3 linked regions of the Homo sapiens genome follow. The protein of the gene in region 3 interacts with the protein of the main gene of each other region in a biochemical or structural test. Each region holds a gene or a part of one and is shown on either strand. Other genes may lie near its edges.

Evidence for each region. Proteins that work in one complex are often made in the same cells at the same time.
Region 1: of the proteins of EIF2A (region 3) and MARK2, one has a biochemical effect on the other in vitro, tested with the Homo sapiens proteins (one study listed by BioGRID).
Region 2: of the proteins of EIF2A (region 3) and EIF2AK2, one has a biochemical effect on the other in vitro, tested with the Homo sapiens proteins (4 studies listed by BioGRID, with this or other methods).

What each region holds. Positions count from the first base shown.
Region 1 is NC_000011.10:63,842,089-63,849,111, reverse strand, and holds part of MARK2 (serine/threonine-protein kinase MARK2), read right to left. Parts: intron 1-7,023. UniProt on the Homo sapiens protein: Serine/threonine-protein kinase. Involved in cell polarity and microtubule dynamics regulation. Phosphorylates CRTC2/TORC2, DCX, HDAC7, KIF13B, MAP2, MAP4 and RAB11FIP2. Phosphorylates the microtubule-associated protein MAPT/TAU.
Region 2 is NC_000002.12:37,153,979-37,161,990, forward strand, and holds the start of EIF2AK2 (interferon-induced, double-stranded RNA-activated protein kinase), read right to left. Parts: upstream 3,003-8,012; 5' UTR 2,930-3,002; intron 1-2,929.
Region 3 is NC_000003.12:150,577,780-150,584,802, reverse strand, and holds part of EIF2A (eukaryotic translation initiation factor 2A), read right to left. Parts: intron 3,186-7,023; coding exon 3,057-3,185; intron 1,604-3,056; coding exon 1,538-1,603; intron 958-1,537; coding exon 892-957; 3' UTR 1-891. UniProt on the Homo sapiens protein: Functions in the early steps of protein synthesis of a small number of specific mRNAs. Acts by directing the binding of methionyl-tRNAi to 40S ribosomal subunits.

The sequences.
Region 1 (7,023 bases), on a different chromosome or scaffold from region 3:
CACTTGAGCCTAGGAGCTATTTGAGGCCGCAGTGGGCTATGATCACACCACTGCATACTAGCCTGGGTGACAGGGTGAGACCCTGTCTCTTAAAAACACCAACAAGGTCAGGCGCGGTGGCTCACGCCTGCAATCTCAGCACTTTGGGAAGCCGAGGCGGGCGGATCACGAGGTCAGGAGATCGAGACCATCCTGGCCAACATGGTGAAATCCCATCTCTACTAAAAATACAAAAATTAGCCAGGTGTTACAGCCGGGCACGGTGGCTCACGCCTGTAATCCCAGCACTTTGGGAGGCCGAGGTGGGTGGATCATGAGGTCAGGAGATTGAGACCATCCTGGCTAACATGGTGAAACCTCATCTCTACTTTAAAAAAAAAAAAAGTACAAAAAATTAGCTGGGCATGGTGGTGGGCGCCTGAAGTCCCAGCTACTCGGGAGGCTGAGGCAGGAGAATGGTGTGAACCCGGGAGGCAGAGCTTGCAGTGAGCTGAGATCGCGCCACTGCACTCCAGCCTGGGCGACAGAGCGAGACCCTGTCTCAAAAAAAAAAAAAAAAAAATTAGCCGGGTGTGCTGGCACATGCCTGTAGTACCAGCTACTTGGGAGGCTAAGGCAGAATTGCTTGAACCTGGGAAGCGGAGGTTGCAGTGAGCTGAGATTGTGCCACTGTACTCCAGCCTGGGCAACAGAGCAAGACTCCGTCTCAAAAAAACAAAAAGACACAACAAAAAGAAGGTGGAGAAAAAAGGCAGCCGCACATGGGATATCAGAAACCAAAGCAAAACTCATACTGAAATGGTAATCAGAAGCAATGAGTAGCTCACTGTAGTATCAACAGGGGCAACCAGCCCCCAAGGACAAGGTCTAGGCTGGAGCTCTGTCAGCAGGTAGTTACACTCACTAATTACTAAACGTTCATATTTTGGCATTTCCTGCTTAGCTGGGAGACTGGGAAATAATCCTACCTGGCTGGCCTTGCTCCCTGAGAAAGACTTCCTAGTGCTATTGCAGGAAGTGTCAGCACACATGGTGACCGGAAGCTCCCACCTTTCCTACAGGTTGTTTCCTATGGCTGAAGTCCCTGTAAGCTGCCAAAGAGCAAAAACTATTTTTTCTCTCTTTTCTTTCCCAGCAGGCCTGGACAGACAGTCCCATTGCGTGGACGAAAAAAGGCCTGGGATGTCACTGAATTTAGCAGCCAGATCATAGCAGTAAGGAGTCCTGATCCCCTCCCAGACCCATAAATGAGGAGCCAAAGGCAGACCCAGTCCCTTCCTCCTGGCTAGGCTGAGGGTCTTTCACCAAGTTGTGAATTGGGAAGGGAGTCCAAAAAAGGAGTTAATGTCTTAGAGCTTTCAGTGAAAGGTGTATAAAGCAAAGCTGCCTTCAGGTTCAGCATAGGGTGGAGAGAAAGCCTCCTCCCTGGAGTGAAGGACCAGCTCAGAGACCCATTCAGTGTTTGGGGAGAAGGGGGTTGTTGACAGATAGTTGTCTTCCAAACTTTCGCCTCAACGAACACAGCCCCAAAGGAGGCAGACCTTTGTATTGCCAACTTCCCAAAGAGCACACAAGAAAATAGGCCAAGGCTGCCCAAAACCAGCTTGACTGGTTCTACAGAGAAGCCCCTGGTCTGCTCCGCCTTCCTCATGTTAAAAAGAAAAAGGCCAAAAAGGTGGCTGGGAGCCAGTCACTGAACACAGCCCTCCTCTCTTTCTGCCAGGCACCAGTTGTCCCTCAGGATCACCTAGCCACCAGTATCAGTGTCCATCTCCCCTCCTCTCCTACCAAATCTTCTGTTCATTTAGTTTTATAAGCCTAAAATTAATGATTTGGTGTAAAAAGGAAATGAATTTACTTTTGCCCTTTTTGCCATTTTCTAATGAGAAATGTAAGGAATAACTGCAAGTAGGGGGAAATAAGTGCCAACCCAAAGACAGACATCTGCGGAAAGAACCACCACAGGGACTGACAAACCTTATTTATCTTGAGATGGGGTCTCACTCTGTTGCCCAGGCTGGAATGCAGTGGCATGATCACAGCTCACTGCAGCCTCAACTTCCCAGGCTCAAGTGATCCTCACATCTCAGCCTTCTGAGTAGGTGGGATACACGCATGTGCTACCACACCCAGGTAACTTTTTAAAAATTTTTTTGGGCTGGGCGCGGTGGCTCCCGCCTGTAATCCCAGCACTTTGGGAGGCCGAGGTGGGTGGATCACGAGGTCAGAAGATCGAGACCATCCTGGCTAACAAGGTGAAACCCCGTCTCTACTGAAAATACAAAAAAATTAGCCGGGTGTGGTGGCGGGCACCTGTAGTCCCAGCTACTCGGGAGGCTGAGGCAGGAGAATGGCGTGAATCCGGGAGGCGGACCTTGCAGTGAGCCGAGATCGTGCCACTGCACTCCAGCCTGGGCGACAGGGCAAGACAACGTCTCAAAAAAAAAAAAAAAATTTTTTTTGGCCAGGCGGGGTGACTCATGCCTATAATCCTAGCACTTTGGGAGGCTGAGGCAGATCACGAGGTCATGAGTTCAAGGCCAGCCTGACCAACATGGTGAAACCCCATCTCTACTAAAAATACAAAAATTAGCGGGGTACAGTGGCGTACACCTGTAATCTCAGCTATTCAAGAGGCTGAGACAGGAGAATCACTTGAATCCGGGAGGCGGAGGTTGCAGTGAGCTGAGATCGCACCACTGCACTCCAGCCTGGGCAACAGAGCAAGACTCCGTCTCAAAAAAAAAATTTTTTTTTTGTAGAAATGAGGTCTCACTATGTTGCTCAGGCTGGTCTTGAACTCCTGGGCTCAAGTGATCCTCCTGCCGTGGCCTCCCGAAGTGCTGGGATTACAGATATGAGCCACCACACCTAGCTTGAGAAACTTGAAACATTCCAGACAAAAACAGATATGAAGATAAAGGGATCTAGCCTATTTATACTTATCAGAGGAGGAGATGTCTAGAGGGCAAGAGGAGGAACTGGGATGCCTCCTCCTCTGAGACACAACTGGAAATCAAGAGGCCAGATTCTCTCTGGGTGCTGTTTAGAATCAGCTGTACTATCTCAGTCTAAAAGATAAGCAATGATGCCGGGCGCGGTGGCTCACTCCTGTAATCCCAGTACTTTGAGAGGCCACGGCAGGCGGATCACTTGAGTCCAGGAGTTCAAGACCAGCCTGGCCAACATGGTGAAACCCTATCTCTACTAAAAATACAAAAAGTGGCCAGGCATGGAGGTGCGCACCTGTAATCCTGGTTATTTGGAAGACTGAGGCATGAGAATCGCTTGAACCCAGTAGGTGGAGGTTGCAGTGAGCTGAGATCCTGCCACTGCACTCCAGCCTGGGTGACCAGAGCAAGACTGTCTCAAAAAAAAAGACGAGCAATGACCTTCAATGGCCTATAACAAAAAGGAAGGGGGCGGGTGGCAGTAACATTCTGCTCAGGAGTTAGCACTTTCAGGGTTAACCTGGGGATAGCCTGGCTCTCCAGCAGTGGGAAGAGGGTGACTTCCTCCCCCACAGGTTTGTAAAGGCTTACTCTTCCCTTTGCAGAGACAGAAGGGAGAAAATGCATAGACAACACTTCAGTGACTCACTCATGTTTGATGAAAGCTGGGAGGAGGCCTGGAGAATCCAAGCTACAAGCACAAAACGTACAAATACTGGAATCTCCCATCAAGAGAAGGAAATTTAGCCACCTATCTGGTTTGTCATTTTGCTGAACTTCCACTGAAGGAGGAAGGGCCAGCTTTAAACTCCACCCACCCTTTCCACATCCTTCTCAATTTTTGCTTTGATGGGAAAGTGGGGAAACTGGCGGCCCCACCATGGCTAAAAGAGAATCAAATCCTTTCTATACTTCCTCTCAAAGCAGAGGCCTAGTAGCTCCAGTCCACAGCTTAACCAAGCAGAGGGAATAGGGGCTTGTCCTGGTTACTGTAGGAAAGCCTCATCAGGCAGTCTCAGGGAAGGAAGATGACCACCCTCCTCACCCTTTCCATCTGCTGAGGTTACTTCATTCCAATCCATTAATGGGCTTCAAAGTGCTGCTGGGGGGAGTCCATTTAGCAGAGAAGCTATCACGGGGCCAAAGGTGGCGCCCACCCCCTACCCCATTTGTCGATAATGGGCCACAAAGTCTGAGGCTTGGCTGCACTCTAGACATAAAATATTCATTCAAGTCGACATAATACATAAGTAGGAACCTCATGGAAGCTCCTGGGAGAAGAGAAATGCCAGCCAGGTGGCTAAGTGCTCAATGGGAAAGAGTTCATGAAGGCCTGGGTTAGTCCTGATCAAATGCCCACTGAGAATTGGGTTGTTCTGTCCAAAGGGGAAACAATCTAGTCTGAGAAGTTCTGACTCCCAAAAGCTCGAACCCTGCAAACCTCTTAGGCAAGCAAAGTCTCAATCTTTTCCTACCTCATAGGCACCAACTCTGCTTAGGACATTTATGCTGAGAAAAATCTCCAGCCCAAACTTTGGTTGGTCTGAAAGATTAAGTTATCCTTGTGCAAACTTTATTTTAATCTGCAGCAGGCCGAGTTTCAACAACTGTCTTATATCCATCTGTTTAGCTACTTTCCGAAGTCCATAAATTGGAGAAAAGTAATTTTTTTTTTCTGAGATAGTGTCTTGCTCTGTCACCCAGGCTGAAGTGCAGTGGCACAAACACAGCTCAATGCAGTCTCGACCTCCCCAGCTCAAGCCATCCTCCTGCCTCAGCCTTCTGTGTAGCTGCAACCACAGGCATGTGCCACCATGCCCAGCTAAATTTAAAAAAATTTTTTTGTAGAGATGGAGTCTCACTTTATTGATCAGGCTGGTCTTGAACTCCTGGCCTCAAGCAATCCTCCTGCCTTGGCTTCCCAAAGTGCTAGGACTACAGGCATGAGCCATGGTGCCTGACCAGAGAGAAATTATTCTAATTTACTAGGTACAGTTACTTTTCAGATTCAAAGGTTACGAACTCCAAGGACTCCCAAAGCCCTTGCTCTAACAACACTTCCTTCCTGATCTCTAGGGCCAAGCCGAAAGTGACACTATTTGGTCTGACATTCACCCACATTCCTGACCAGAAGGCAGCACCACCAAGGACCCCCTGGCCAGAATCAAAGGACAGAGTGAGAATTAGCACCAGGGCACACTGCTGCACAGCTCAGAGTGTGGACTGAGATGCTAGCTAGCCGATCCAATCTACCTAAGTTACACCAAAAGCAAAAAAAAAATATTTATCCAGCAGATCACCTGAGGTCAGGAGATCGAGACCAGCTTGGCCAATATGGCAAAACCCCGTCTCTACTAAAAATACAAAAATTAGCCAGCATGGTGGTGGGCGCCTGTAGTCCCAGCTACTCCCAGGAGGCTGAGGCAGGAGAATCGCTTGACCCGGGAGGCGGAGGTTGCAGTGAGCCGAGATCGCATCGCTACACTCCAGCCTGGGCGACAGAGCAAGACTCTGTGTCAAAAAAAAAAAGAGTTTTATATATATATATATTTTTATCCAGAATCAACAATGGGGGTCCAGTGAGAGTGTTTGGAGTAGTTCAGCTGTTCCTTATAGGATCTTGTAACTTTGTTTTCTTCACCAGTACTTCTAAACTCCCCTTCCTAGAACTGAGAGAATAAACAATGCCGCTCACTGCCTAGAAGCCTGACAGCAGCCCCCTCCCTTCCCACTGCAGCAGAAGTGGGGCAAGTTTTCTCTCAATCCCTCTCTCATAGTTTCTGAGGCCCAGAGGTGGGGCAGGTCCCAGATGGAGTAGCCTCTCCCCCAGGTGTTATGGAAAACTCTAGCAGGTGAACTCTGGAAGCTGGACCTTTCTCCAGGCTTGCCTGTGACTGCTGCTGCTGGCTGGAAGACAAACAGTCATCTTGCTGATTGCTTTCACAACTGCCAAGCTTCAGGCCAGCAGAGTCATTTGGAAAAGAAGTGAACAAAAAGCTCAGCTCACAAACTAAGAATCCCCCAAGCTACGAGCCCCAGATTAGAACCCTCCTTCTGCAAAAGCAGGAAGTCTATGGCTGTGAAAAAGCACATCTGGAATCAGGTGTCACAAAAACCATCTTAAAGACAGGGCTTAACTTTTTTTTTTTTTTAATCTCCTACTTTCACTGTTATAAGCGAAGTGGACAGCACACAGGCAATCTCCCTGTAACGCAAGGTTTATTTTTATGCTTCAACATTTTCAGTGTCTGTGTGTTTCAGAGTGATTAAAGGGCTCCTGGAAACAGGTTCTCATCAGCCACATTTTTAAAGAAGAGGGAGAGGAAGAGCAAGAAAAGAGACTGGAGACAACCAGTGGTGTTTGTTTACCTATTTTCTGGTAAAACCAGTTTTAAATTTAAATAAGGTGACAGAGGACCTTTAGGGGAGGAAATCAGCCCAACTAAATCCCCTTTTTAAAAAAAATAACATTAAGACTATAGTAATGACCAAGCTTCCATGACTACTTTATCTAAAATCACAACAGGACCAAGAAGAGGTTTCTTTCACTTGGTGGCATGATCTATTCTCGGAGGCCAGTGTTTGATATACCTGGCCTTGTGACCTGAGGAGCTGCTGCTTGTCTTTTTTCCCGTTTTAAAGAATACAGGAATCAGGCCCGGCGCAGTGGCTCACACCTGTAATCCCAGCACTTTGGGAGGCCGGATCACGAGGACAGGAGACTGAGACCATCCTGGACAACATGGTGAAACGCTGTCTCTACTAAAATCCAAAAAATTAGCCGGGCGTGGCGGTGTGTGCCTGTAGTCCCAGCTACTCAGGAGGCTGAGGCAGGGGAATCGCTTGAACCCAGGAGGCGGAGATTGCAGTGAGCCAAGATTGTGCCACTGCACTCCAGCCTGGCGACAGAACGAGACTCTATCTCAAAAAAAAAAAAAAAAAAGAATACAGGAATCTGTCTGGAATAGGTGCATCCAAGGTTTTCCAAAGTCCCTGCTTTTACTGGAATGAGACTTAATATTAAATCGATACAGTGACTGGCTACCCTGAGAACAACAGTAGAAGGTATGAA
Region 2 (8,012 bases), on a different chromosome or scaffold from region 3:
CTTGTTATTATCTGTTTTCTTTTTTAATACAGCCACATCATGATCTTTTTAAAACATCAATTCAGTGGCCAGGCGCGGTGGCTCACACCTGTAATCCCAGCACTTTGGGAGGCCAAGGCGGGCAGATCACCTGAGGTCGGGACTTCAAGACCAGCCTGACCAACATGGAGAAACCCCATCTCTACTAAAAATACAAAATTAGCCGGGGTGGTGGCACATGCCTGTAATCCCAGCTACTCGGGATGCTGAGGAAGGAGAATCGCTTGAACCCAGGAGGTGGAGGTTGCGGTGAGCTGAGATCGTGCCATTGCACTCCAGCCTGGGCAACAAGAGCGAAACTCCGTCTCAAAAAAAAAAACAAAAACAAAACAAACAAACAAAAAAACATCAATTCAATCATGCAGTCTCCACAAGCCACTGAAATTGTTTTTGTCGAGGTTACCAATGGCTTCCCTATCACTAAATCCAGTAGTCAGTTCTTAGTCCTTCTCTACTTGACTTACAACCAGCATTTGATGGGGTTGCGCATCCTCTTCGCCCTCCTCTCCCTGTCTTAGCTTGGACTTTTAAGACACCCACTCTCCTAGTTTTCTTCTTTTGAGACAGAGTTTCGCTCTTGTTGCCCAGGCTGGAGTGTGATGGTGGCATCTCGGCTCGCTGCAACCTCTGCCTCCCGGGTTCAAGCGATTCTCCTGCCTCAGCATTCCGAGTAGCTGGGATTACAGGCGCCCACCACCACGCCCGGCTAATTTTTTATATTTTTAGTAGAGACGGGGTTTCCCCATGTTGGCCAGGCTGGTCTCAAACTCCTGACCTCAGGTGATCCACCCACCTTGGCCTCCCAAAGTGCTGCGATTACAGGCATGAGCCATGGCACCTGGGCCTGGTTTTCTTCTGTTCTGACAAGCTACTCCTTTTCTGTCTCCTTTCCTGGTTCATCTTCAACTTCTTTTCTTCTATTTTTTTTTTTTTAACCTTTTCTATGGTTCTAACTTCCTCTTTTCTAGATATTCTAGCATCACTGGGCCCGGTCCTTAGACTTGCTCTTTTCTACTTGGACTCACTCCCCTGGTGATCACCTCCAGGTTTGTGGCTTTAAATTCCACGGACACAATGATGGTTCTCAAAAGCACGCTTCCACCATGGACTCTCTCCTGAACTCCCAACTGCCTCTGTCCAACCTGCTCCCTCCTAAAATGCCCTTGACTCTATTCCTTCTGCTGTCTTGGCCTGGTCAATTTCTACTTCCTACAGATTTCAGCTCAAAATCCCAGACACTCCTTCACAGGCTCTTCCACAGTGCTCATCCCCTTTATTAAAATTGCTTATTTAACTATTTTCCAAAATAGAGCATGAATTACTACAGGTAAGGGACCAGGCTCAATAATGAATGAGTGAGTACCAAAATATCTCCAGATACCCCATCCAGGACTTGTCACCTGCTTTTCTCTACATTTATAGTGCAATATCTGCATTCTCTCTGTACCCACCAATATCCACTCATCTATCAGGATCAACACAGCCTTCTTTGATGCTGGAGGGTCAGCTAGTATGGGCTTGCCACTCCACCTTGCCCAACCTTCAACACAGCCCTGACTGCTTTTTAAACTAATTAGTGAGCTCTTTGGGGAGCAGATTCTACATCTTATTCACTCATCTGGAAGAAACCTCCATCATAATCACTAAAAAATAATATTTGTCCATCTTACTAATGCCCAGAAATTATTTTGGCTATGCCTCCACTTCCTTTCCAGCAGACTACATACAGCCTGGCCAACACGGTGAAACCCTGTCTCTACTAAAAATAAAAAAATTAGTTGGCTGTGCTGGCGGGCACCTGTAGTCCCAGCTACCTGGGAGGCTGAGGAAGGAAAATCGCTTGAACCTGAGAGGCAGAGGTTGCAGTGAGCCCAGATCGTGCCACTGCATTCCAGCCTGGCGACAGAGTGAGAATCTGTCTCAAAAAAAAAAAAAAAGAAAAGAAAAGAAAGAAAATGTCACCAGGTGATAACTACTATGTTGACAACCGAAGTAGTGGAAGGGGGAACAGCAAGGGCAGAGCGGGGTTTCTTGTATAGGCAGGTTGTTTGAGGAAGGCTGCTCTGATAAGCTGGCATGGGAAGCAGTGCAGGATAAGGGAGGGATTTCCCCATGCAGTTATCTGGGGAAGAAGCTTTCCAGAAAGAAGAAACAAGCAGTGCAAAGGCCTAGAGGCTGGAGGATGCTTGGCTGTGCACCAGGAACAGCAAGGAAGCCAGCGTGGCCGGAGTAGGGGGTGCGAGGGGCCTTGCCTGTGAGCCTTAATAAATGTTTATAGGATTCTGATGAGACAGGAAAGCTACGGGGAAGGTCGGAGCAGGGGAGAGTCTGGTTCTTACTTAAAGGAACATTCCAGATGCTGAGGTGTGGAGAAGAGGTAGGGGGTGGAGGTTCAGGGGTGAGGATACGGAGTGGGAACAGGAACTGCGGCCAGGCAATTGGGAAACTACTGCAACTCTCCACGGAAGAGATTTTTAGCCAAAGATTGTTCAGCCAGTCTATGAGTATTTCAGGCCTCCGTATTTTCCATGTGTCAAGCCACTAGGCCTATTCGTCTTCCACTAGACCCCGCCCCACAACTGCTGCCTGGGAAATATTTGTTACTTGCACTGATAAAAATTCTTCACGGGAAGGAAATGGCTTTCAGTCCCCACCCCGCTCCACGATCCTTTCCCTGGATTTGGGGAGGGCCCCACACCCGGGCTGCGGACCTGGGCCTGCTCTCCCAGTGCTGACCCAGCCGGGGCCAGGGGCTTCGGATCAGCGTCCGCGTCCTGAGCTGGGGACGCAGGATTGGCGAGTCCCGCCCCGGCTGGGCCTGCAGCCCCTCGTACGTGGCCCCCCGGCCCCCGCTCCCCGCGCTCCCTCGGCTGCCCCCTGCCCTGCTCACCTGCGCCGCCGCCGCCGCCGCCGCCGCCGCCGGCCGGAGACCCGCGGCTTCGGGAGAGCTGGTTCTCAGTTTCGTTTTCCCCTTGGACTCCGCCTTCCCTGCAGCCGCCCGGCCCCCTCTCGCACAAGCCCTCGTCTGCTACGGGATTGGGGTAAATTGGCGCTGGATCCAGAGTGCGCGCGAGAGGCACTGGCGGGCGGGCTTGGCACCGGCGGGCGGGCTTGGCACCGGCAGGCGGGCTTGGCACCCACGTGCTGCCCCTGCACGGCCAGGACCCTGCACCCCCATCCCCCGCCCCCGGGGCTCCTAGGGTTCTCCGCTGGCCTAGTCCGCTGGCCGCACTAGGTTCTCGAATCAAGGGTTCCACTTACTCTCAACACAAATATTTGGGGTGGGGTTGGGAAGATGGATCTTACCAGCTCCATTCTACAATAGAGGAAACTGAGTAAATGAACTCACCCAGGGGTCCTGCCGCTCGTAAGTGGCAAAGCCAGGATTCAGTTCAAGTCGGGGCCTGTAAACACCAAAGCACTCTTTCCCTCTTGCCACACCGCGGCCCCCTCACCTTTACAAGCCTGGGGATCAGAGGCCTGGGGGCGTAATCTCCTTCACTCCGCTCCCACCCATCCATTCATTCATGAGCAGACACTTGCCAGCCGCTGTAAAAGCACCTGTGGGCCAGTCCTGCTGCTAAATAGAGACACCTGCTTCCTACAGTACCCCAGGGAGCTTCCTACCATAGTCCAACACCAGTAGTCCTCGATTTATAGAAATTCTACTCACCTGATGGACTGCGACACACTCCCAGAGTCACACAGAGTTCCAGAGTTCATTGGCACAGTGACTAATGAGTATTGAGGCACAGAGAATTTGGATTAACACAGGTAGTAAGCAGCGGAGTTAGAATTATAACCAGGAGTTTGTACTCTCAGTATCTTAGCTGGGATAAGAGAGGAAGGTGGTCCAAAGACAGACCTCAAATATACATTAAATATTATGCCTAGGCCGGCGCGGTGGCTCATGCCTGTAATCCCAGAAATTTGGGAGGCTGAGACGGGCGGATCACCTGAGGTCAGGAGTTCAGGACCAGCCTGGCCAACATGGCAAAACCCCGTCTCTACTAAAAAACACAAAAATTAGCTGGGCGTGGTGGCAGGCACCTGTAATCCCAGCTACTCCAGAGGCTGAGGCAGGGAGAATTGCTTGAACCTGGGAGGCAGAGATTGTAGTGAGCTGAGATCATGCCACTACACTCCAGCCTGGGTGACAGAGTGGGACTCCAATTCAAAAAAAAAAAAAAAAAATTACACCTAGGCAGGCATCCTCTCCAGCCTCCCTTCTCCATCCCCCAACAACCCCACATTGCAGGGTATCAACAACTAAAATCTACACTTTCCTTGTAGCTCTGGTCCTGGGCATAGCTTAAGTCCCCTATATGTAAAGCACTGGCGGGAGGTTTAGAAGGTAGACATGAGGCAGAGCCATCTTTTTGTGGCATTTCCAGGTGACAAGAAAACTCTGACAGTGCTGTGTGTCCATTTGTCAGCTTTGTGGGTGTGGGATGGCTGTGGCAGCAGCAATGGCAGTAGCAAGGACAAGTTTTTCTGACTTTTTGAGCCCCTGAACTGCCCAAGAGAGCTTAAAGAATGAAAAATGGCAAGCTTAAGCATGATCAGAGGACACACGCTTTTATGACTGTACCAGAAAACCCTCCTATTTCAGGGAGCCTCAGGGGTGATGTAAAAATCTGCCTTCTCTGCTGGGGAAAGATTTGGAAGGAATGATATCAGAGGGTTGGTGATGAGGTCCAGGGGAATGATATGATATGGGTGAACCTCTTGGAATGGGTAAAGTGTGAGCATATTGGACTCCCTGAGGAGCCCAATTCCCTACTGTCTGGGCTCTCAGCTGCAAAGCTTGGTGCTGCAGGCACCAGAATTACAATATAATTGTTTTGAGACAGAGTCTTGCTGTGTTGCCGAGGCTGGAGTGCAGTGGCACAATCTTGGCTCACTACAACCTCTGGCTCCCGGGCTCAAGCAATTTCCCTGCCTCAGCCTGCCAAGTAACTGGGATTACAGGCGTGTGCCACCGCACCTAGCTAATTTTTGTATTTTTAGTAGAGAAGGGGTTTCACCATATTGGCCAGCCTGGTTTGGAACTCCTAACCTCAAGTGATTCCCCCACCTCGGCCTTCCAAAGTACTGAGATTACAGGCGTGATCCACCGCGCCCAGCCTAGAATTACAACAAAAATTTTCATTTGCAGCCTCATCAGGTCTCTTCTGTGAACACTGAGGGCATTGATTGTGAAAGAAAGAAGCCCTGGGAATTTGGGTGGATTTGAATGAATCCAAGTGCCACTGCCCTCCTAAATTCTGCTGTGTCTCCACAGGCTTCCCACCATTGTCTGATAAGGCTGGTACAGCCTACATTAAAAAGCATGAAACAGTCACCCTGCAAGGAGGTGCTGATTCTCCAAATATCCTATCTCTACCTGTGCCTTCACTCCTAGAACTAGAATCAGATGCTAATGCGCCCCAAGAGGATATGGACAAGATCTGATGGAGGGGTGATGCTTTACACAACAAAAGAGCAACAGAAAGCAAGAAATAGACATGGCAATGAGTCTAAAGATGACGTGAAGAAAGCTGAAAGTTGAGGCTGAGCGCGGTGGCTCATGCTTGTAATCCCAGCACTTTGGGAGGCCGAGGTGGGCGGATCATGAGGTCAGGAGATTGAGACCATCCTGGCCAACATGGTGAAACCACGTCTCTACTAAAAATACAAAAATTAGCTGGGCGTGGTGGCATGTGCCTGTAATCCCAGCTACTTGGGAGGCTGAGGCAGGAGAATCGCTTGAACCAGGGAGTCGGGGTTGCAATGAGCCAAGATCGTGCCACTGCACTCCAGCCTGGCAACAGAGCAAGAAAAAAAAAAAAAAAAGAAAGAAAGTTGATGTACTGCCTCTAGCAGTGGGAGCGCTAAGCCAGTTTGCCCAGTTGGTTTACTATAATATCAGCTCAGTGGCAGCTCACACTAAATGTAAATGTAATGCCAAGTAATGCAGATGAAGAAATCAAAAATACTTAGGGAGTCAGGAATATTGGAGTAGATTCATCTTATGCAACCTAGTCACTTACTTCCTAACCATGGACCCCAAGAAGATCCAAAGTCCCCTCCTTCAGTGGCTTATACAGAGCCAGTGGCTGGCAATGCAGCTGATGTTCAGAGAGTTGGAAGGAATGATATCAGAGGGCTGATGATGAGGTCTAGGGAAATGATGTGCTTGAACCACTTCGAATGGGCAGAGTGTGCATATTGGGCTCCCTTTTGAATGTTCACCAAAGGCAACCACTTCTAAAGAGGCTTTTGAGAAGCAGTTGAGCAAGAAGACTTCTGTTAGCCTTTTCCCCAGCTATCCCTGTGCTTGTTTCAACAAATAAAGAGGCTGTGACAGCAGGAATGGAGGATATGTGTGAGTTTATCCACATGGGCTTCTCAGGCCTTACTACGTAACTCTTTGTGAATATCAGTATGGTTATTGACCTATAGTCAATCCCATAAGTCTATCTCTTTTAATACAGTGACTTTTAGATCAAAATGTGTAATGCTAAAGCAACGAATCAGACACAGATAGAAGAATCGTATGTATCAATTATTCTTAATTCTCTTTTTACTAGCAGAGGAAAAATAATAACTGTTATTCCTGCTTTTGGAAATTGTAGAGTGGTCCATATTTATGTTGTACCATATCTCTTGTGGCTCTTTTCCTCAGATGTTTCTGCTTTAGTAATTTGTCTTGCTTACTTATAAACTCTTCTTGTCAATAGTCCCCACATGCACATTATTATAAAATCATCGCTATGGTCTGAATGTTTGTGTCCTCCCTAAAACTCATAAGTTAAAAGCGAATCACCAATGTGATGGTATTAGGAGGTGTGGCCTTTGGGTGGTGGAACTGGTGCTCTTATAAAAGAGGCCCCAGAGATCTGCCTTGTCCCTTTCATCATGCAGAATACAGAAAGAAGGCCGGGCGTGGTGGCTCACGGCTGTAATTCCACCACTTTGGGAGGCCGAGGTGGGTGGATCACTGGACGCCAGGAGTTCGAGACCAGCCTAGCCAACATGGCAAAACCTTGTCTCTACTGAAAATACAAAAATTAGCTGGGCATGGTGGTGCATGCCTATAGTTCCAGCTACTCCAGAGGCTGAGGCAGGAGAATTGCTTGAACCTGGGAGGCATAGGTTGCAGTGAGCTGAGATCATGCCACTGCACTCCAGCCTGGGCGACAGAGAGAGACTGTCTCAAAAAAAAAAAAAAAAAAAAAGAAAGAAAGAGAAAGAAAAGAAAGAAAGAAAGAAAGAAAGAAAGAAAGAAAGAAAGAAAGAAAGAAAGAAAGAAAGAAAGAAAAAAGTCAAGCCCAGAATCATCAAGGGCTTACAAGACACTATATTTCCTGCACCCTGGTTGCCACTTTAACCTCGTCTCTTGTTTCTCTGCCCCTCTTTCATTCTCCTCTAGTTACATTGTCCTCCTTGTGGTTTTTCAAGAATGCCAGGTATACTACTGTCTCAGTGCCTCTGTACTTGCTCTTCCTTTTGCCTGGAACCTCATCCTTCAGATATCTGCAAAACTCACAGATCTTGTTGAAACGTCACTTGCTCACGAAGCCCCCTGACTACACTATTTAAGTTCCAATCACTACTGTCACCCTGTTGTCACTCCCTATCCCCCTCATTCTATTCTATTTCCCCTCCATGGCACTTACAGCCTTCTATTATACAATACAACTTATTGATTTATTGTCTTTGTTTTCTCCTTCCTCTGACATGTAAAGTCACATGGACAGGGATTTTTGACTGTTTTATTCGCTAATTATTTCATTGTCTAGAATAGATCTGGGCCAAAACTGGGCTGCTGCCTGTTTTTGTAAATAATGCTTTATTAGTGCACAACCACATTCATTCATCTATATATTGTCTATGGCTGCTTTGACACTAAGATGAGTTGTGTTGAGTCACTGTGACAGAAACTGCATGACCAGTAAAATTGAAAATATTTACTATCTGACCCTTCACAA
Region 3 (7,023 bases):
AAATTAAGAAGAAAGTCAAACATCCAAACAGAAAAATGGGCAAAGGAAAAGAAAAATCAATTCACTAAAGAAATACAACCAACTATCAAACGTGGAAAAGTACATAACCCATCTCTGATAAAAATACATGTATATAACAGTAACAAACAATCATTTCCTCTTTATCAAAGTGGCGAACATTTCAAAGCCTTATCACTTCTGATATTGCCAACAGTGTGGAAAACTTTAAATGGTGCAAGTATAAAGCTTGAGATAGGGCAATTTGGCAGTATCCATGAAAACTAAGCAGGGTGCTTAGTGTTACTAAATGATACATTACTTGAGGATACAGGAGTAGTATATATCATAGTGACCTAAAGCATAGGCTCTGGGATTAGATGGCCATTTCCTAGCTTTGAGACACTGACAAATTTCTTAAATTTATGGCCTTAGTTTTTTCATTTATAAAATAGAGATTAAAAGAATTACTTCATAGAGTCTTGTGAGAATTAAGTAGTTTTACACATCTTATAAATTAATAAAGGATATCTGAACTAAGGAACTTATAATAAAAACAGTGATTAAATTTAAAATGTCTTTGTTCATTTACATGGTATATATCACCCTCTACAAAAAAAAATGACACTTGTCTTTCAATCTGTCAAGCTTAGCTAAAAAATTCACGTATCTCTTTTCTATATCACATATTGACATGATATAGGATGCAAGATATAAATATCAATTTAATAGACATTATTAAATAATTTTACACTTAGTAGAATCTTGGATAAATGGTTAAAATTATAGATTGACATTAAGTGTGGGCACAGGAATATTCTGTGTATACCAATGGGTTTAACAGAAGATGTGTTTGCACTGATTTCTGGTCATCAACTTGCTTTCCGTGAATCTTTAAATACCCAATTCCAAATCTTCCAGCTCCTGGAGAAGGGCTGTTTCTTTCTGAATTTTCTCCAACTAGAAAAGTTTGAAACAATGAAGTTATTATGAAATAATTACTGGATATGTAACCAAAATAATACAGAAAAAATGGTATTTCTGACAATTTATTATGTTCACTAGTAAACACAGATTTTAAAATACAGGTTAGAAACAAATTCTAATTTGTTATCTGGTATGAATCGAGGGTGAAAAGAACAGACACTGTCTTACTGCATCCCTTTGGGCCCCAAAAATTTTCAATTCTATATTCGGGCTTAAACATGTTGACAGGAGGAGGGAAAAGGCAAACAGGGCAGTACAACTTGAGAGAATCTTATATTTGTCTAATATAACAAATTGCTATTATTTTCAGCAGTAATAACATAGTATGCCTCTTAGGAATATTGACTTTTTCATTCACATGATCAATACCATATCTCTTCTATTTAAGAGTAAAGCTATTTAAAAGTAAAAACATTAAAAAGAATATGGCATATGGTTTTCAAAATAAGTTTTTAAACTCCATGTGCTCTTTTACCTGACTAAATACTTGTTTATAATAAAAGGGGGAAGGCTGGTGGTCACCACAAGCCTAAATGAAAAATGCAGAAAGTACCTGATTTTTTTCTAGCTGTTTTCCAGTTGCTGCTTGTTCTTTCAGTTGTTCGATTGCTTTCAGTTTCTGCAAACATCAAATATGAGTCAAGAGCATGGAAGAAAAGTCACTTCAAATGCAAATTTCCTTATTAAGAATGTGAAACTCAAGTAAGGAGATTAATTATCTTAGATTTGTATCAACAATGGTCTGTTAAAATGCTAGGATAAATTGTTTTTTAAAGTTAAATGCAAAATTGTAAATGTTAAAAACATGAGATTTGGCAAAATATTATTCTCAGGCTTTTAATTAATGTTATCGTGTATGCATGTGTATATATAAATGTATCAGTAATGGCACATTTCAATGCCCCATTGGACCTGGGTGATGTTTCTGGCTTTGAGAGAAATCTCAATGAGAGCATTCTGAAAGATTGTTGGTCCAAAGTCCTGCCCGATAAAAAGTGAATGAAAGAGAAACCTCATAATGCAGCTGTGAAGGGCTCTAGAGACCTTTTTTTATCCCCAGGGCCACCCCAGCACACTGGCTGCAATATCACAAATCAATACACTTCTTTTTTGTCTCTGTCTCTTCATCTTCAAAACTAGGATAAATATCTGCCCCTAATTATCACAAGGTATCTAATGAAATACTGAGTATAAAAGTATTGAGTGACCAGGTGCAGTGGCTCACACCTGTAATCCCAGCACTTTGGGAGGCTGAGACAGGCAGATCATGAGGTCAGGAGATTGAAACCATCCTGGCTAACACGGTGAAACCCCGTCTCTACTAAAAATACAAAAAATTAGCCAGGTGTGGTGGCAGGCGCCTGTAGTCCCAGCTACTCGGGAGGCTGAGGCAGGAGAATGGCCTGAACCCGGGAGGCGGAGCTTGCAGTGAGCCGAGATCGCGCCACTGCATTCCAACCTGGTCGACAGAGCAAGACTCTGTCTCAAAAAAAAAAATTAAATTAAATTAAAAAGTGTTCAGTGGCCAGGCGAGGAGGCTCACAAATCCCAGCATTTTGGGAGGTCGAGGCGGGTGGATTACCTGAGGGCAGGAGTTTGAGACCAGCCTGGCCAACATGGTGAAACCCTGTCTCTACTAAAAATATAAAAATTAGCCAGGCGTGGTGGCGCACACCTGTAGTCCCAGCTACTCGGGAGGCTGAGGCAGGAGAATCGCTTGAACCTGGGAGGCGGAGGTTGCAGTGAGCCAAGGTTGTGGCACTGTACTCCGGCCTGGGCAACAGGGCAAGACTCCGTCTCAAAAAAAAAAAGTGTTCAGTATATTTCTATGCTGATGCACACTGAATTTTATTACTCCAAAAATCAAAGTACTAAGAGTCTTCAGACATTTATGAATAGAACTAAAATCAATACCATTCCTAAGTGAACAGTGCTTCATAGTGAGAAAACAACAATGAGAACTGCTGATACCAACTTCTTAGATACCTGTCTTTAGGCATCTAAGTACTCTCTTACTTATATAATTTTCATGTATACCTTTCAATATGCACATCTGTTTTTAAGTCTCTCACCTTCTTTAGGTTCTTGATTTTTTTGTCTATCTCAGGGTCCCCAGAAATTGACTGAGAGACAGTGTTTCGTGGTGTGCTCTGTGGGGCAGGAGTAGGTGCCAAATCTGGACTCTTGTCACTTCTTGCTTCCTGCAGGAAATATTTTTTTAAATTCAATTTTAAAAGCCAAAAACATTACAGTATTTAAATCAACATAGCTTTGGCATATGAAATACAGAAACTAAATATGTGATTTTATCTACATTTTATATAAAGAATCTGAATTAAAGGTCTCATGAAGTATGCTACATACTCCCATGTTAGAAATAAAATGACCTTATCAGAGTAAACCAGGAAGTTTCTGTACCAGCCAACAAGCATTCCAAACTTTTGCATATTCTGAGATGTGCCAGTAGATAGATGGTTTGAACATATGAGAGGGCTTTTCTATTTAAGGTGTTTAAAGTTTCACTCTTACAAGGCTCTCTCCAAAACTATAAAGAATATGTATGATCAAGTACCTGTAATGGATTATGCTACAAGAATAAGAATCCTACAGATATTAATTTATAATCAGATCAATTCAGCTCTGCAACAAAGTACCACAAAACTTTTTTCCCCTTAAAGGGATGCCATAATGCTTCCAATATGATCAGACCTCTGATAACTTTTCTTGTCCCTCCTCACTGATTCTGAATCACTTTTATTTCCGCTAAGGTGCTGTATACTCTTGCCCCTGGCCTTTGTGTACAGCAGTCTCCCTTAACCATGGTTTCAGTAACCAAGCGTCAACTGCAGCCCAAAAATATTACATGGAAAATCCCAGAAATAAACAATTCATAAGTTTTAAGCTGTGTGATGAAATCTCTCAGCATCCTGCCTAGAACGAGAATCATTCTTTTATCCAGTGTATCCACAGTGTATTCGCTCCCCACCTATTTTTCACTAGTAGCTGTGTTGGTTATCAGATCGACTGTCACAGTATCAACAGTAGTTGTGTTTAAGTAACCCTTATTTTACTTAATAATGGTCCCAAAGTGCAGAGTAGTGATGCTGGCAATTCGGATATGCCAAAGAGAAGCCGTAAAGTGCTCCCTTTAAGTGAAAAGGTGAAAGTTCTTAATAAGGAATAAAAAATATTGTATGCTGATTTGCTATGATTTACAGTAAGATTAAACCTATCCATGAACTTGGGAAGAAGAAAAAAGAGATTAGTGCTAGTTTTGCAGTTGCGCCTTGAACTGCAAGTTATAGCCGTGGTCATTCAACTTACCACACAAGCATTGTACCATCTCACATTGTCGCAAAAAGGGTGAATACAACACCATTAGATATTTTGAGAGACCATATTCACATATCTTTTATTACAGTATATTATTATAATTGCTCTATTTTCTTATGAGTTACTGTTAATCTCTTACTGTGTATCACAGTCTCTATAGGGTTCGGTACTATCTGTGGTTTCAGGCATAGCTCTGCCCCTCCAGGATAAAGGGAGACTACTATATATTGTTCCTTGTGCCTAGAACACCTTCCCCCACAAGTCACCTGGCTGAACCCTACTTATCCTTTAAGTCTTCTGGAAAATCTCCCCACCTTAAGACTGGATAGTCGCACCTTTCCCAGGCTCTCATAATGCCCAGTATTTTTCCCTACGGTAACACCATATTCTACCATTCCCCATTAGAACTGAGCCTCTAGCATAATACTTGCTTCGTTGCACAGGCTAAATAAATAAAAAATAAAGGAATGACTCTTCCTTTATAATTATGACAAGATATATATTTTGGTAAGAGGGGAAAAAATTATGTAAGTATTTATTGGCTCCAACGTAGGGTTTCTACTTCTTATAGAATTTCCAGTGGAATATATATATAATGCTCCAGGTCTCCATAACCTTTTACTCAGAGTTCTGGGTAGGATACTCTGAACTTTTAAAGCATCCTCAGATCCTCAGGGAACATAGAATAGGGTATCACTTCTAGATATTCAACTCTAAAAGTCTGCCTAAGAGTTTTTAGAAAATACAGAATTGAAGTCAATTTTTCTCTTTTTTTTTTTTTTTGGAGACAGAGTCTAGGCTGGAGTGCAGTGGCACGATTCCAGCTCATTGCAACCTCCACCTCCCGGGTTCAAGCGATTTTCCTGCCTCAGCCTCCCAAGTAGATGGGATTACAGTTACAGGCACCTGCTACCACACCCAGCTAATTTTGTATTTTTAGTAGAGATGGGGTTTCACCATGTTAGACAGGCTGATCTCGAACTCCAGACCTCAGGTGATCCACCCACCTCGGCCTCCCAAAGTGCTGGGATTACAGGTGTGAGCCACTGCATCCAGCCAATTTTTCTTTTTAAAGTCATGTTGGTTTCACTTTTTGGTACTATTTAATAAACAATTATTTACCTTCTACATGAAAACAAATTACTGGGCACTTTGAGAATTCGAAAGAAAATATTAAGTTTCTCCTCTTAAGGAGCCTGTAAGTTCTGGTAATAGGCAGTTTTATATTTTTCACAATATAAAATTAAAGTAGAAGAGTAAATAAAAGAAGAGGGGATATTCTGCCTATCAAAATTCACTTTTGATATCAGATTTTAAAAATATAAAATTTTAGTTGTTTGTAATGAGCTAAGAATATAGCTCTCTAGGAAGAAAGGTTAATCTTATCATGTGAAAAACCATTAAAATTAAGTGATATATAAAATTTATTTTTCCCCACAAACTAACCAAGAACAAGTTGAAATGTCTGCATTATTATACTTAAATTCTAGCCATTCTCTAGAAAGGACGTATATATGGTAAGATTAAATTCTTATGTTTCAACTCTTTTTTGGTAAAGTCAACAAACTTATAAAATTATCACCAGTTTACAAAAATACTAGTTAGATTACATATATCTGACTGCTCTATCTTTGACTATTTACTTCAGAGTCAGGACTAAGAAGGTCTGGATAAGGTGAGATTCTGTCAAGGGCCATTTAGCTTTGTTCCATCACACAGCCACAACTTTTACTAACTTCAGCCAGTCGTCCCCAAAATACATACTGAATAGTTTATCTTGCAAGTTGAAAACCTTTGCTATTACTGGAAAAACAACTCAAAAAGCAATTCCACAATGAGGGATTACTGGTATCACCTTTGGTATCATCTTTAGTAAAAAACGTGTGTAGGTGCTTGATGACTGTATTGGCTCTTTTAAAAAAAACTGACAGGTATAAACATATAACTGAGAGTTGTAAATTTATAACTGATCAGCCCAGCTGATCACACTATTACCATGAGCTATAAAGAGTTACACATTTATAACAGAGTTACAAATAACTATTATTTATAATAATAATTTCATTATATTAATTAAATGTGAAATTATCACATAATTTATATTATAAAATGTATAAACTAATAGAATTTGTATATTATTTATATAATTAATACAATTATAATTTAGTATATTAATTAATGGTTATAATTATTAATAATTATAATCATATGTAATTATGTAAGTAATTATTTATATAATAAGTATAAAGGAATCTTAGTCCAGTATCACCAATGGTCATATTAAAAATATCTTTTGATAAAGTGGAAGAAACTTTGCTTATAAAAATAGAATTCTAAGTTGAGTGCGTTTCAGAGAGGCCCTAAAACTCAAAGGGCATCTTAGTTATCAAGTTGTTAAGGATACTACTAATGAGTTGTAATATCCAGGGCCAGTAGAGGTCCCTACTTGTACTGATGAAGGGACAAGACTTGCTTTTATACAAATCTAATATCAAATGCATGGAATAGATCATTTTTACTTGGAATAACCTAAAGCTGACCAATTAAGATACTTCTGGGGATGAAACATATTAACTACAAATGAACAGAATGGTTTTTCTAAAAGTCCAGATTTTAGCAGAATATGGTTGCATAATACAATTCTATACCTTAAAATAGTAACTGCCTCCCAAAACACATAACCAGCCTAGACCTGTCAAAATTCAA